Regions from separate parts of the Homo sapiens genome. Here region 1 is linked to region 2. Evidence: fine-mapped expression QTL. Tissue or cell type: whole blood. Region 2 holds a variant in brackets; the other region holds the start of a gene. All regions are shown on one strand. Distances are between the middles of the regions.

Region 1 (8,103 bases), 40 kb before region 2:
TACCTGATCTTGGTACAATATGGCTTTTTCTCCACAATCTGTTCTTTTCACAAATATTATTCCTTCCTTGTTCTCACTGAGCATCCCAAATATACTTACTTTAAAGTCTGTTTTTTTCAGACTCTTCTATTATTTTAATTTCCTCTGGAGTTAATTCACCTTACAGTTATTGATTTTTCTTGACTATTATTCTTAGCATAAGATGTCTTCATGGGCTTCAGAATTTTGAATCTCAGACTCATTTTGTGTTGAAAGACTTTGTCTCTCTTTCTCTCTTGGTACTCCCTTCCCCCATCTAGCAGTTTGGGGTGGGTCCACTTGATGTCTGGTCTGTGGTAAAGAAATATATATATATACACACACATATATGCATATTATATATACACACACATACACATATACATACATATATACATATATGTGTATAATATATATGTGTATATATATTTTGTTGGTGGTTTGGAATCCTGACCCTCTTGGTCTACTTGTTAAACCAGGGGACAAGAGATTAAGATGACTATATCTGTGTTCTCCTTTGACCCAGGGCCACACTTTCACATAAACTGTCACACCCCACCCCCATGAAATGACTGAATCCAATTTTTCAGACTTTTTTTCTGACACAGGGGTGACTCCTCTCTCCTCCATCCCCTGGATTCAAATAGGAAGCCTGGCTGTGTTCCCAGCCTTGGGTCCCTATTATGTCTCAGGTCCAGAGCCCGGCAGGCCCACGTCAATACTCAGAAGTTTGTGTTTCTGGACCATTGTGAAGTTTATCTTGTTTATCGATTGGAGCCCACTTATATCCTTTCAATATTTTCTTTGCATATTTTATTGTTCTGTGTTCACAGCCCAGACAGGCACCTCAGGGCATGAATCATAGCTTCATCTGGATGAGAAGCCAAATATTCTTCTCCTGTTTTTACTTTTAAAAGTCCATTAATTTTTATTTTGCTCTATTTTATGGGCTGCCATCTAATTTCCCCTTGGAAGTAAAGTGAAATACAGATAAATTATTTATTTCTTTAAATGTTTTATCATTTCTGAAATTGGGGTGCATCTTATATTCAATGCACCTGGGAATTTAAGATTCATGGTGTCAACCACACTTAGAATTGCAGCAGACACTTCACTAATGTGCCCAGTATCCAGGGGCCTAGACAGACAGAGAGACAGAGAGACAGATGGAGTGACTCCCACGAGTGGATGGGATTCCTCTGTGTGTTTAGAAGAACCTGGAGGGGTAGAAGGCTGCAGGCTCATTTCTGCTTTTGAAGTCATTGACCTCAGTCAAGGTTAACACAGCTCCTGCCCCCATCTGATTTAGAAGGTCTCATGGAAGAAGTTTAAGGACACACAGTCTTCTTTATTTCCCTCTTGCTTCATGCTCTAGAAGTTTTCACCTGGTCACAAAGGGTGCACACTTTGGCACACTGGGGTACAAGTATCCTTTCCAAGTTCTGACACTGTAGTTGTGGGACCAGCCCAAACTGGGCCTACCCTGTTGGTAACAAAATGTCAAGCTGCCTTTTAGGTAGAACAGAGCCCAAAACTGCAAGTCATGTAGCCTGGGCATGTGCCGTAGAAAAAACTTTGACCTCCAACAACACCCAGAACCAATGATTCGTCCTCTTAGAACCAAGAAGACTGGGACATGACCAGAAGTTGAAAACCAGAACTCATTCACAAGCAAAGGGGTCCATCAGCCTGGAAGGTCTGGGGCTAAAATCTACTTTAATATACATTACCACATATGGTCAAATTTGAAGCCCTCCAATCAGACCCTGGCAAGCCAGCATTGATAAATACTTTCTCTTGCCACCTGATCCCTTAAAACTTGCCCCATACCTCAAATCAGGGAGACGGATTTGAGCCCACCTCCTCTCTCCTTGCTGGTCAGTTTTGCAATAAAGCTTTTCTTTTCTCAAAAGCTGGTGCCATATGTATCGGCTTCCGTGTGCATCAGGCAGCAAGACCACTTGCTCAGTAACAACATCCTTATGCCCTAATTCCCTTGAGTGAAAACTGCAGGTCTGAGTGAATCCAGCTCTGTCCCAGGCCTGCCTAAAGAGTGCAGATGGTTCCCAGCTTCAGCCTCCTTGAATACTGTGTCCTCAAAAGACTGGCATACTGGGTATTGTTAACTGAAGAATGACGAGGTTCATAAACCTGGAAAGGAGAGTTTTATTTATCATAAAAGGTTGCACCCTGCAGAGTGGCCATTTGAATAGGCTGGGAAGTGTAGCCTCTGGCCAGAAGCCATAAACAGGCACTTCAAGGGTTGGAAGAGTAAGACAGGAATTTATGTTGATCAGGGTGGCCAAATATACATATTCAATAAGCTACAGGAGGAGTTATAAATATTTATGAGAAGAGAAATATGCACATGTGCAACTGAGCTTCATCCCCCTTCATGGGTAGCACCTACAAAAAATGGCAGTGTTAGCGTGATCTGAAGGTGGAGTTTTCAGCCCTCTAATGTCAAAAGGTGTATCAGAGGACACAAAAGCTTTCACTGCACATCCTCCACAGGCTGGCCAGAACCACTCCAGGGTTGGTGGTCTCTTACTAGGAAAGAATGCTGGTCAGTTGTTGTGTGCCACAAAAAGGGAGGGGCAGTGTCAGATGGTTGGTTGGTATCAATGTTGAAGTCTTTCAAAGAGGCTTGTTTCTGTTTAACTCTTAAGGAAAAAAGCCTAATGGTGGTTATCGGTTATGGAGCGGGGGCAGATAATGAAGTGTGTCCAACCTCCCATCCCATCATGGCCAGGAACTCGGCTTCCCAGGTTTCTCTGGGGTCCCCTGGCCAAGAGGGGGTCTGTTCAGTTGGTTGGGGGGGGGGGGCTTAAATTTTTATTTTTATTTCTCAGTATCTTTTCTCTCCAGCCATGCCAGCTTGAAACTGACCATGCAGAAGGATCACCTAGGTCAAGCTGGGAATCCAGACCCGGAATCAAACAGTTCTTACCCTTTGGCCAGTGTATTAGTCTGTTTTCACGCTGCTGATAAAGACATACCTGAGACTGGGCAATTTACAAAAGAAAGAGGTTTATTGGACTTACAGTTCTGTGTGGTGGGGAGGCTCACAATGACGGCAGAAGGTGAAAGGCACGGAGGAGCAAGTCAGGTCTTACATGGATGGCGGCAGGCAAAGAGAGAACTTGTGCAGGGAAACTTCCCTTTTTTTTTTTTTTAATTTTTTTTTGAGATGGACTTTTGCTCTGTTGCCCAGGCTGGAGTACAGTGGTGCAATGTCTGCTCACTGCAAGCTCCGCCTCCTGGGTTCACGCCATTCTCCTGGCTCAGCCTCCCAAGTAGCTGGGACTACAGGCGCCCACCACCACGCCTGGCTAATTTTTTGTATTTTTAGTAGAGACGGGGTTTCACCATGTTAGCCAGGATGGTCTCGATCTCCTGACCTCGTGATCCACCCGCCTTGGCCTCCCAAAGTGCTGGGAGTACAGACGTGAGCCATTGTGCCCGGCCGGAAACTTCCCTTTTTAAAACCATCAGATCTCTTGAGACTCACTCACTATCACAAGAAGAGTGCAGAAAAGACCTGCCCACATAATTCGATCACCTTCCACCAGGTTCCTCCCACGATGTGGGAATTGTGGGAGTTACGACTCAAGATGAGATTTGGGTGGAGACACAGCCAAACCATATCAGCCAGGTATCTTCACTCCTTGGTATTTACTCTGGGGAACCCAGCAGAGAAAAGGGTGGGGATTTATATACAAGTGTAGTTTATAAAACTTTAGCATGGTAAACAAGATAAGGATCTATCAAAAAGGGCATGGCTAAATACTTTGCGGTACAGGAGTTCCATGGACCACAGGCAATAACTGAAAATCATGCTTCTGAACTATCTTTAATAGGAAAATGCTCAAAATTCAATGTGCTGTTATGGTTACAAAATATTCATAAGGTAAAAAATATTTTGTAGAACATATCATAGAAAAATGACTGGATGGAAGTACAGAAATATTACTATCTCTACGTTACATATATATGTATTACTATTTGCTATCTTTAGGTGGAGGGAGTCTGAGTAGTATAAAGTTTTTTTTACTTCTCTTACATCAAGATTTGTTACATTAAATTTATATTCAAATCACAATAAGGGCCTGATGCAGTGGCTCACGCCTGTAATCCCAGAACTTTGGGAGGCCAAGGCAGGCGGATGCCCTGAGGTCAGGAGTTGGAGACTGGCCAGGCCAACAAGGTGAAACCCCGTCTCTACTAAAAATACAAAAATTAGCCGGGCATGGTAGCACGCGCCTGTAATCCCAGTTACTTGGGTGGCTGAGGCAGAAGAATCGCTTGAACCCGGGAGGCGGAGGTTGCAGTGACTCAGGATCGCGCCACTGCACTCCAGCCTAGGCGACAGAGCGAGACTCCGTCTCAAAAAAAAAAAAAAATAAGAAGAACAGTAAATCATCAAAAAAATAAACCCAATGACAACCACAGAAAGAGCCTTGCAAGCCCTCTTGGGAGGAATGACTGGGAGAACACCAGGTACCCGCCCTGATGAAGACGCCGCAGCAACTACAGTCTTCCCCGATTGGCAGCAGCCCGAGTTGGGGGGTGGGGGGGGGTGGGACTTTGTGCATCACTTCCGGGGGCGGGGCAGCGGTCGTCTCCGCACGCGCGGGAGCGGTCGGTATCCATGGCAACCAGCGGGGCCAGCCTAAGGCCCGCCCGCCACCGCCACCGCGCCGGCCCCGCCCGCACAAAGGCCGCGCGGTGACCCGCCCTCTGCCGCGACCCCGGCCCCGCCCCTGCCCCGGCCCCGGCCTGGCCCGGTCCCTGCACCTGCCGGAGGCCGCCCGCCGCCATCGCCAGCGCCGTCGCTTGGCTGCGCTGACCGGGAAGCAGTTCTCGGCGGTCCGCGCGGTGATTCATCGGCCTGGCCGCGTCCCCCGCGCGGGCCATCTTGGTCACGGCCGGCGGCGGACAGAGCCGCGGAGGAACCGCGAGACCCCAGGTACGCGTGCCCCCGGCCCCCTGCCCGGCCGGGCCCCGCCACTGTGGTGGCCCCCAGGCCCGCGGCCGCCAAGGAGCAGCCCCCTTTGTTCTCCCCCGGGCGGGCGCGGGGCGGGCGCCGCGGGGCTTTGTGCAGCCTCGCCACCCACGCGCGGGCCCTCCACGCCGCCCCTCACCCTCCTGCCCGCTAGTCGCAACTGAAACCTTGAAAACATCTTTTCTTAATCCTCCAGGGCCCAGAGCAGGTCCAGCCACCCGTCTGGCTCCGTAGTCCGCGAAGTCTGCAGTAAAGGAGCCGCGTGGGACCGGGGCCGAAGTCCCTAGGGCCTGGCACCGCGTGCCCCTCTCTCGGGCCCTCGGCTTGGGGGTCTCGCAGCGCCCTGCCGTCGTGCACCCCACACTGCCCCCATTTCTACAGGGGCCCACCTGGTCACCACACCCTCTTGGTCCACCCGCGGATCTCAGCGTGTGGCTGACCTCTGGCCAGCATGGTGCAGCCGCAGACGTCCAAAGCTGAAAGCCCAGCCTTGGCAGCGTCTCCGAATGCCCAGATGGATGACGTTATTGACACCCTGACCTCCCTGCGCCTCACCAACTCGGCGCTGAGGCGGGAGGCTTCCACCCTGCGGGCGGAGAAGGCCAATCTCACCAACATGCTGGAGAGCGTGATGGCAGAGCTGACCTTGTTACGCACCAGGGCGCGGATCCCGGGGGCTCTGCAGATCACCCCGCCCATCTCCTCAATTACTTCAAACGGGACTCGACCCATGACCACACCTCCAACCTCTCTGCCCGAGCCCTTTTCCGGGGACCCAGGCCGGTTGGCGGGGTTCCTGATGCAGATGGACAGATTCATGATCTTCCAGGCCTCCCGCTTCCCGGGTGAGGCCGAGCGTGTGGCCTTCCTTGTGTCTCGACTGACTGGGGAGGCGGAGAAGTGGGCTATCCCCCACATGCAACCTGACAGCCCCTTGCGCAACAACTATCAGGGGTTCCTGGCAGAGTTGCGGAGAACCTACAAGTCTCCGCTCCGGCATGCGCGGCGCGCCCAAATCAGGAAGACTTCTGCCTCTAATAGGGCTGTGCGAGAGAGGCAGATGCTCTGCCGCCAGCTGGCCTCTGCGGGCACGGGGCCTTGCCCAGTGCATCCAGCTTCCAACGGGACTAGTCCAGCGCCAGCCCTGCCTGCCCGAGCACGGAATCTTTAAGAATCCGCCAGCACTTGGTAGCGTCTGCAGCCACCCAGGTAGCATACGCTCTTTGCTGTGTAGAAGAAATGCCCATACGACAGCTTTGCCCCTGTTTGAAGACCTCCCTTCTTGCCTCTCCAGACGTGTTCCCCGAGGAGATCTTCCTTCCGTCCTTCCTGGCGCCCTGGTTGCCCACCTTGCCGTGCTTCCTCTTACGTGCTAGCTTTGTACCTATCGCTCACTGCATGCTCGCCTCCCTCTTGCTGGCATCCCGGCCTGTTTCAATGACTACCGCTCTGCTACTTAGGCACAGGGACTCCGCCGCACGCTGACGGACCACGAGGGCTGACCCCTTCCAGCCTGACTTGGTTCATGGAGGCTCCTACTCTGCCCTCTCCAAGCTCCCCTGGCGGCTCCCCACCTGGTTGCCCAGTTCCTATTGATGAGCTCTGGACAGAAAGATGCCCGTTTGGCCAGGCTGGTGGCTTGATGGGTGTACCTGGAGAGGGGGTCTGGCTTCCTGCCCAAGATGCCTCCCAGCCCTGCCAGGGCCCGGTGCAGCGGGCAGGGCCTCATCTGTGCTGTAGTGGTCGAGTGGTTGCTGCAAGGAGCGTAGTTCTGCCATGTCTGGGGGCCAGGTTCCACTCTGCACATGAATATGCAGTCTGGGAGGCCCCACTGCTCTCACTGGGAAGGACCAATGTTGCACCTCTGTTAATGCCTGACTTCAGCTGCTGGTGTTCTGATGGAGCCAGAGGCTTGGGGAATCTGGAACTTGCCTGCTAAATAAGGTCGTGGTGGACTCTCAGCCATTGGGCAGGTCTATCAGGCTGCAGGTTCCTACACACCCACGCCTGAGGGTCATAGCAGGCTAAGGGTGGATACCAGCGACTCCCTTTGCTGCCCAGGATCTCCATGGGCAGTGCCACAGCGGCTGATGCTCAGTCACTCCTGCTTCTACCCCCTGTCACTGATGGCGAGCCTTGCCCAGCTTGAGACCTGTTCCCATCTCTATTCAGGTGCCATGTGGCCTTCACTGCAGCCCTGCAGCCACCCACGCACCATCTGTGGGTCTCCAAAGGCACCTTGTAGCATGTACTCCCCGTGCCTGGGCAATCAGATGGGCTGCCTTTGTCCAAGGGAAAACAGACTCCCTTCGGGAAACATCCTTAAGCACTTAAGGCCGGGGGGGGTGTCTGCCTCTGGCAACCCAGCCAGGGTCTTGGTGGCATTTGTAAAAGCAAAGAGCTGTGGACTGCCGTGGTCCTAGTGTGGTGACAATGCAGCACTGGCATGCATGTCCTCCTTCTGAAGGACCTCATCCTTCCTCACAGGGGGATGACCAAGAAATCATTTTGTGGCTGAGTTTGGCCACGCCCTTTGGACTGTGCTGTTCCGCCATATTTCAATGCCAAATGAACCACATTGACATGACCTGGACCATAGGGCTTCCTATCCTGGGCTCAGCTGCCCCTGTCTGAAGGGTCTTGGCTTGATTGCAGAAGGACAACCTCCGCACCCACCTAAAGACATGTATATGTCTTGGGATCCCAGAGATTGGGTCCTTGGGCCTGGCTTCTTAAGAGTTTTGATGATGCTGGGAAAAGTGACTGCGATTCTGAAGAACCGCTGCCTTGCAAGGTCAAGGACATTCAGTGGTTGCTGGGGTCCGCAGACTACTGCCACCCACTCACCATCAACTCTGTTAGCCCAATTGCCCTGCTGAACAACTGCCTGAATACAGGCTTTAGGTTCCCCTGGACTCCAGCCAAGGCTGTTCAGGTGGGACCATGGTGCTCTTTAAGCGTGATCGGAGGGAAGACACACAGCAGGGCCACCATTCCATGAATGGGAGGTGTACAGATCACTTTCTCTTTGTGCTCAGTTCTGTTCTGTCTCCAGCAGCTATATTGGTAAGACTAGTACC
Region 2 (8,103 bases):
CCAGCCATTATGCAGGTAATATGTTAATGTCAGGATTAGCATAATATGGTAATTGGCTCAGAGGCCACCGGGCCCACCTCATCTTTGGAGAGTCAAACCGAAGTATATTTAAAGCAAAGAGTTTGCTCCCTGGCAAGGCTCTCCTTCAAGTAAACCCACAAGGAGGGAGGAAGAGCAGAGGTCCCAGAGATGGCTGAGAGAGAGCATCTCAGAGAGGAAGCCATGCAGGCAGAACAATCCAGCACCAGCTGCCGGTGCCAGAATTGTGCATTCATAAATGCAAATGGATCCGCCCGGGACCTGGAGTGGCGGGCAGGAGATAAATGGAAAATTTTGGAATATAATTAACGTAATGGTAGTCCTCCGGCCCCGCAGAGTTCAATTTGCAGAAGCAATGTTTCAATCCTGGGCTGTTTATCACACCATGGAGGCCGGTTACGCAGAGATAACAGAAAAGCTGTTGTGTGGTCTGAGCGGTGATTTGTCTTGGAGAGGATCCTGATGGTGATGTTTAAGGAAACGTTATTACCAAGACATGTTGGGGAAAATGAGCGGGTCCGGTTGGATGACTGGCCTCCAAGCACTCTTGATAAGACTGACAGTCTTGGTGAGCCTGTGAAATTGCCAGACCCCAGATTTCACCCCAGAAGCAGGAGTTGGTGGGCTGAGAAGCCCAGGCTGGGGATTCTGTGGCCTCCTCTCAGGTGACCCAGCTGCTGTATGCGACCCTGGGGGGGAAAGAACTCTGTGTCTTTGGAGGTAACCGAAGACAGAATAAAGGCTTGGAGGTGGTAGTGGATGCTGCCAGTTGCCTAACTAATAGCTACTCTCCCTGATTTTGGTCAGAGTTGCGATATGCCCATTTAGAGCACTGGTTCTCCCAGCCTCCTTTGCAGTTAGAGGTGGCCTGATGGCACTGTTACGGTAAAAAAGATGTGAGTGACAGTCACTAGGGATGGCTTTTAGAAAAGCTTTGTAAAAGGACCAGAGCCAGCTGCCATTTTCCTTTTTTGGAACTTTGTGTTATAAAAAAATTCCTGCCTGGAATGCAGAGGTAGTGTTTTGGTCTTAGCACCTATTTTGTGACCATGGGGATCAAAGTCACAGGCAGAGGATGATGGAGTGACAGGAGGGAGGGAGCCTTGGCACTGATGACATTGTTGGACTGAACCAGCTGAATGTGATCTCTGGGCTTTTCCATGAGACAAAACTCCTTACTTGCTTAAGCTGCTGGACTCTGTGATGCTAACTGGCCCAGCGTGATCCTGCATGTCTCTGGAGCTCAGGAGAGATGCTGGACGTGCCACTCTGGTAGTTATCCCCACGCAGGTAAGAAATGAAGCCCTGCCAAGCATGAGTCCTCCTGGGGTGAGGAGAAGGGCATCCAGAGAAAGCCCAGGACATCAGCATTAGAGAGAGGCAGGTTGAAGAACCAGAGCCCTCCTAAGAGTGAGGAGGGACAGAAGAATTTGGAGAACAAGGTGTTACAGAAGTCAAGGGTCTCCAGTTTTTTCAGCCACTCCTGGCATACTCTCCCAGATAAATAAAAGGTACTTCACCTGCAATGGCCCCTAAGTGGAATCCATCCTCTACCCTCAGACCTCCTCTTCCGCCTCTACTGTCCATCCAAGTAATGGCTTCGTCACGCACCTACATCCCTTCTCCCTCAAACACCCTCCCTTGTGAAGCTCTTCCCTCTCCCCTCCATTCTATCTCGATCTCTATCTCTAACTCTATCTCTGTCTCTGTCTCTGTGTCATAGTCTAAGCTTCTAGTATGTCCTGCCTAGACCATTTCATTGTGTCCTGCCTGGACCATCATGTCCTGCTTGGACCTTCATTGAATGTCAATACATGTTCCATCCAGCCTTTCTGTGCATGCCGACATGGCTTTCCAAAAATCTTTATGTTACTCCTTTGCTTAAAACCCTTCAGTGCCTTCCCTGCTGCCCCCACCACCCCCAATAATCTGCTTGGCATGGACTGAAGGCTCTTTATTATCTGGCCCCGCCCCATCCCTGTTTAGCTGATACTGTAGGCATTTCAGATGATTCTGTTGCCTAAGTGAGTCGTGTTCTTCTAGCATTCTGAGGCTTTGCTATTTCCTCTTCCTGGAATGCCTTTCCCCTGGCCCTAGTGGTGAGCTCCTGCTTATCCCTAGCGAGCCTTGTCAAGCTCTTCTTCTTTGAAGCCTGGGTTCTGGGGTCAGAATTAATTTCAATTTCACTTTCATTACTATGGCACTTCACTTGAACCCAGTGAATTGAGAAACTCAGCATACTGCACATCCACACCCACATCCCTCACCAGAATGTGGGCTCCTTGATATCAAGAACCATGTCTGAGTTAAAGTACTCAACACAAGGCTTGGCTTGGTGTTTCGTGAGTCATTGTGGGATGGTGGATGGATGGATGGTTGAGTGACTGGATGGATGGATGGATGGGTAGGTGGATGGATTGGTGAATGAATGAGTGGATGGATGAAAGATGAGTGGGTAGATGGATGGATGAGGGGGTGGGTGGATGTTTGAGTATGTGGGTGGGTGGATGAGTAGGTGGATGTATGGATGGGTGGGTGGATGAATGGATGAGTGGGTGGGTGATGAGTGGGTGGGTGAGTGGGTGGATAGACGGGTAGATGTATGAACGAGTGAAAGGGTGGATGAGTGGGTGGATGGGTGGATGAGGGGGTGGGTGGATGGTTGAGTAGGTGGATGTATGGGTGGGTGGGTGAATGGATGAGGGGGTGGGTAGATGGATGGATGAGTGAGTGGATGACTACATGGGTTGATGAGTCCAGTGGATTCATGAATGGACAGGTGGATGGATGGGTGGGTAGGTGGATGGGTGTGAGAATGGAAGGACAGATGGATGGATAGGTAGGTGGATGGAAGGATGGATGAGTGAGTAGCAGGGTAGATGGGTGGGTGGGCGAATGGATGGGTGGACGGCTGGATGGATAGATGGATGAATTACTGGGTGCATTCACTTGTTCTTTCCTCTGCCTTACCTGTCTTCATAGCCCTTAGCACCATCTGCATCATGAACATTTACTTATTTTTTTACATATTATCCACTTTACCAAACTAGAATGTGAA[T/C]TTCATGAAGAGAGAAACTTGTTGAAGACTACTTTCTCAAAGCCGAAAATTGTTTCAGACACATAGCAACTGCTCAATAATAGCCAATTAACAAAGAAATGAGGCAGAGGCCTGGAAGGAGGGTCCAGGTCTTCTTTCACCACGCCCAGGCCACCTTACATGCTCTAATGTGGTGTCTTCTTCCATTGAAATAAAGGGACACAAAAAGGGATGCCTAGACTCAGGGCCAGTCCAGGTCCAAATGGGGAACAAGATTTGCCCTTGAGCGACCGGAATCTTGGGCAAGTGTGTTACATGCTGTATTTCTGACTCAGAGCATGAGGGAGAATAGAGGAACAAGAGGTGGGATGCAGCTTGTATGAAAGGAAACTTCTGAATGGGCACAGGGAAGGCTTCCTAAAGGAGGAGGTACCTGAATTGGGCTTGGAAGGATATTTAGGATGAAGATGGCAGATGCAGGCATGGAGGGACAGAGGTGAGTGGAGTTGGGAAAGAAGGCAGGGGCCAGTTTGGCCTTAGGGAAGGGTGCAGTGGATGGAGGGATGGGCAGGAAACAGTTGGGGAAAGTAGATTGGGAGCAAGCCTACTTGTAATATCTGAGAAATGACCTAGAAGAGGTATCTAGGGGCACTGAAAAAATAGGCCAACACAGGTGGTGCTCTTGGTAGGGCCTTGTATCATAGGGCTTGCAGATCCTAGCAGCAGGTGTGTGCCTGGGGCTGCCCACAGGGTGTAGCTCAGAGGCGGACATGTGACCCAAACTGGCCAATCAGGGTCTTCTCTGAGACACTCTCTCTCTCTCACTTCCTGGAGCAAGACAGTCTCTGAGCCTGTCAAGGGTGAGACGCCGTTGAACCAACTTCCCAGTCAGTGAAGATGAGAAGAAAAGCCAGGAAAGCCCACATGCCACATGGGGCACCTGGAAGACTGGCTTCGTGGGTGCAGAGGTAATGCCAGCTTCTGAGTTGTGGGCAAAAGCCAGAATGAGAGTGAGGTGCCTCTTGGGCTCGTGTGAAGGGAAATTTCTACAAGGTCACTGGGGAAGACTTCATAGAGGAGGTGGTGTCTGAACTGGGCCTGGAAGGATATGTAGGATGAAGATGGGCAGATGCAGGCATGGGGTCCACCAGCCCTCATCCCTTGGGAATAGAGCACCTGGCTGACGGTCCCTGGAGCTCATGCAGAAGCTGGAGCCTTTGGGGGCTTGGTAGGAAGACGTGAGCATGTGGGGCACACTGAACATGGAGAAGAGAAAATGCAGCAGCTTTGCTCAGAGAGGCTCTTTCCACCAGGGCCCGCGGGCCGATCGCCCAGGGCTTGGCAGAGCTGTGGCAGCACTCCTACGCCAGCTCAGGTGCAGGAGCAGGGCTGGGGGTGGAACCAGGAGAGTGAGGTCAAGGCTAGAGGGACGGTGCCTGGCCGTCCTCACACCTCAGCTGCCAGAGGTGGCCTGGGGACCCACTCCAAAGCCCCTGGGTGTAGCCCGCCTGGAGCAGAGCCCTGCAGCTGCCCTGGGCCCACATGGCTGGTTGCTAAGAGACCAGAGCCTGGAGGCCGACAGCCAAATTTCAGGCTGTGACTGAGTAAGGACCCTGGCTTTTGCCTGTGGCTCATGGAGTCTTTAGAAACTGAATTCTCAGACAGCCACCTGAGGTTGAGGGGAGCAGGGCCTAGAGAAATCCCACAGCTGGGAGATAGGGTAGCTCGAGCTCAGCCCTCCCATCCTGCCTTGGAGCCAGTCCAGATGGGCCCAGAGGAGGTGGCACAGGGAGATGCTCCCAGTGGGCACACTAGCTCCCCAGGGCTCCCTGAGCTGCAGGAGGGATGTCTCCGATGTCACCCGGACCGTGCTTATCCTCCTCCCACCATGCTTAACCTCCCTGTGTGCCAACACATGCACACACGTGCATGCACACACCCCACGCAGACACCAGACATACACACAGCACACTCGTCACTCACACGCCACACACCCATGCACACACACACGCCACACCACATACTACACGTGGTTGCAGTCACACCAGATATAGATGCATGTTCCAAGATATCACTTTTTCTCTCCTCCAGGCTTCCTTCTGCCTTTTTCTAGAAAATCTCTAAGGTCCTGCATTAAATGTCAGATCACGGGAAAGGCTGTCCCTGAACTCGTTCAGCCGGGGGACTCTGTGATCCCTTACAGAGCACGGCCTATGGTGCAATTGTTGGTTGAGGGACTGAATGCACCTTACACTGTAAACTCCTTCGGGTCAGGAGCTGAAGCTTCTTTGTGGATTATAGCCAGTACGTAACTCAAGACAGGCTTTCACCAAATGCTTATTAAATTAAGAGGCCAGGCATGGTGGCTCACGCCTGTAATCCTAGCACTTTGAGAGGCTGAGATGGGAGGATCACCTGAGGTCAGGATTTCAAGACCAGCCTGGCCAACATGGTAAAACCCCGTCTCTACTAAAAATACAAAAACTAGCCAGGCGTGGTGGCGGGCGCCTGTAATCCCAGCTACTCAGGAGGCTGAGGCAGGAGAATCACTTGAACGCAGGAGGCAGGGGTTGCAGTGAGCCGAGATTGTGGCACTTCACTCCACCCTGGGCGACAGAGCGAGACTCTGTCTCAAAAAAAAAAAAAAAAAAAAAAAAAAAGGAATGAAGAGTTGAATGAATGAGTGACAAAAAAACAGAACCAAGATTTGTTAAGTGCTGGGCCAGAGCCCTTTCTTCTGTCTCTCTCTTTTGAAAGGGTAAGGATATTTTACTCATTCTGCTTACGTTTAATGCATTTTGTTATTTTAGCTCAAACATAATTGCCTTTTCAGCATTTTTCTTCAAAATGATGATTTAGGGTCATCCAAATCTCAGTGCACATAGTGATAATATTTCTATATGATTTCCATTCAAAGTGAAGAATTTAAAATTTGGGGATGCTTTCAATAAGATCTAGTGAACAAAAGGAGCTTTTGCCCAAGATGATATCTTTTAAAATGTGCTCTATAAAGTTGCTTGGGGTCTAGGAGAACTAGATGATGGGGCTTTTCTAGGAACATCTGCGGACAGGCTTCCAGGCCCTTCCCAGAGTCTCTGCCCATCCAGGCCTTCTCCCCGGGTCCCTGAGGCCTCCACCACCTCCCCTCCAGCTTGCATCCCCCTCTACAACTATCTGAAGGGTCCCGACCAACATCTGCACCTCCCCTACCAGGCTTTACTCCCAGCCTTCTTTTTGAACAGGAAGGCATCTCGAAACTCAGTGTCCCAGGAATAAACTGTTCGTATGTACCCTCTGAGCCTCTGGAAAGAGGCTCATCTGAATCTTCAGGAGCAGGTTGAACAGCATCAGGAAGCAACAGATGTTTCAGCCCTGTCTAGGGCTCCATCATTCTAGGTGCAGAACATCTAGGCCCTCTCCAGCCAGGGTTTTTTCCTGGACTGAGAGCTGATTATTTTATTTTATTTTATTATTTTATTTTTTTGAGGCAGAGTCTCACTCTGTTGCCCAGTCTGGAGTGCAATGGTGCGATCTCGGCTCACTGCAGCCTCTGCCTCCCTGGTTCAAGTGATACTCCTGCCTCAGCCTCCTGAGTAGCTGGGATTACAGGCACCTGCCACCACGCCTGGCTAATTTTTTTGTATTTTTAGTAGAGACGGGGTTTCACCATGTTGGTCAGGCTGGTCTCGAACTCCTGACTTCAGGTGATCTGCCCATCTTGGTCTCCCAAAGTGCTGGGATTACAGGCATGAGCCACTGTGCCTGGACTGCTTATTTCTAAACCTAAATTTAAGCTTTCATTCTCTCCCTCCATTTCACTCTCTGCCCTGAGTGTGGGTCATGGTCGTCTTAAGATTAAAAACCAATGATCGAGTGGATGAGTCAAAAATGCTGGACTGATGTCTTGATTTGACTTCCCACTCTGCCACCAGTGGTAAGTCAGGTTTCTCATCTGAGCCTCTGTTTGCTCACCCTGTAAAGTGGGAAAATCCTATGACCCTATTTTTGTAAAGATAAGTCAAGAAAATGAACTGCTATTAGTGGAGGGCTTCATGACCATGAGAACTACAGAACCTGAAGAAAAGCATCCAAATAGTCCGGGTATTCATGCACGGTAAACCCCTGGAGGCACGTTCCTCTGTGACCGTGCATGCGTGTGCACACATACGAAGGTGACTGGCTCTCCCGCGACTCACAGAGGTGACTCCGGCAGAAACACAACGCCAGCACAGCAGGTCCTGGGGTGTGATGGTACCTCCTCCTGGGTGTCAAGTGGAGACCAGAAGTGCAGAGGACCAACCTCCTAAAGGCAGAAGAAAATGGCAAGTGGCCAATCGTTATATGTTGAGGCTACCATTGCATGTTCTGGGTTTACCACCTCTGTTTACCAGCCCGGTAGCCCTGGGCCTATCACTTAATATTCTTGTGCCACAGTTTCTTATCTTCAAAATCTGGATAATAATGGTAGCCACCTGCTCAGGATGTTTTCAGTTGCAAAGAACAGGAAACCACAAGAACCCAAATGGGCTTTTAAAGTAAATGTCAAGATGACATTCGTTTGCTAAACCGAAAGGCTCAGGTGAAGTGTGACTCAGCCGTTCAATGATGTAACAGAATATCTACTTTTGTTTTTTGCTTTCCCTCTACTTTCCTTTCTATGACATCAGATTCATCCTAAAGCTGGCTCCCTTTAGAGTCCAAAGAGGTCTGCCAGTGGCTCCCAGGCCTGCATGCCTCCTCATTAACATCCTTTGAGAGAGACAGAGTTTCGTTGTCTCATGCAAATATCACTACAGGTCCAAGTCATTCCTCAGAGGCTGGTATTACTCTTATCGGACCAATCTCAGTCCACCCCCAAATTGGAACCAATTACTAGGCCAGGGGATGGAATACACTGACTGGTTCAGATCAGATCACATGCTCCAGCCCTGGGACTGAGAGTAGAGCCAGTTTACTTGGACATCGAAACGGACATAGGGGACGGTGGGAAGGGAGAATAATGCTAGGAGGTGACGATTATTTATTAT

The links. PIP is the estimated chance that this variant, and not a neighbour inherited with it, causes the effect.
Region 1: RTL6 starts here. The variant in region 2 is fine-mapped to the expression of RTL6 in whole blood (INTERVAL, PIP above 0.99).

Annotation. Positions count from the first base shown.
Region 1 is chr22:44,494,928-44,503,030 of GRCh38, reverse strand. It overlaps RTL6 (retrotransposon Gag like 6), which reads left to right and starts at 4,798. Exons shown (of 2, transcript NM_032287.3): 1 at 4,798-4,987; 2 at 5,220-8,103. The coding sequence starts at 5,475. The coding sequence ends at 6,194. RefSeq lists silencers at 4,588-4,647, 4,738-4,867 and enhancers at 6,127-6,904, 6,905-7,682.
Region 2 is chr22:44,455,014-44,463,116 of GRCh38, reverse strand. No RefSeq gene overlaps it. Among named protein-coding and RNA genes, the nearest start is that of LINC01656, 16 kb to the right of the region's middle. RefSeq lists an enhancer at 7,381-7,530. The variant T/C (reference allele first, on the strand shown) is at 3,098.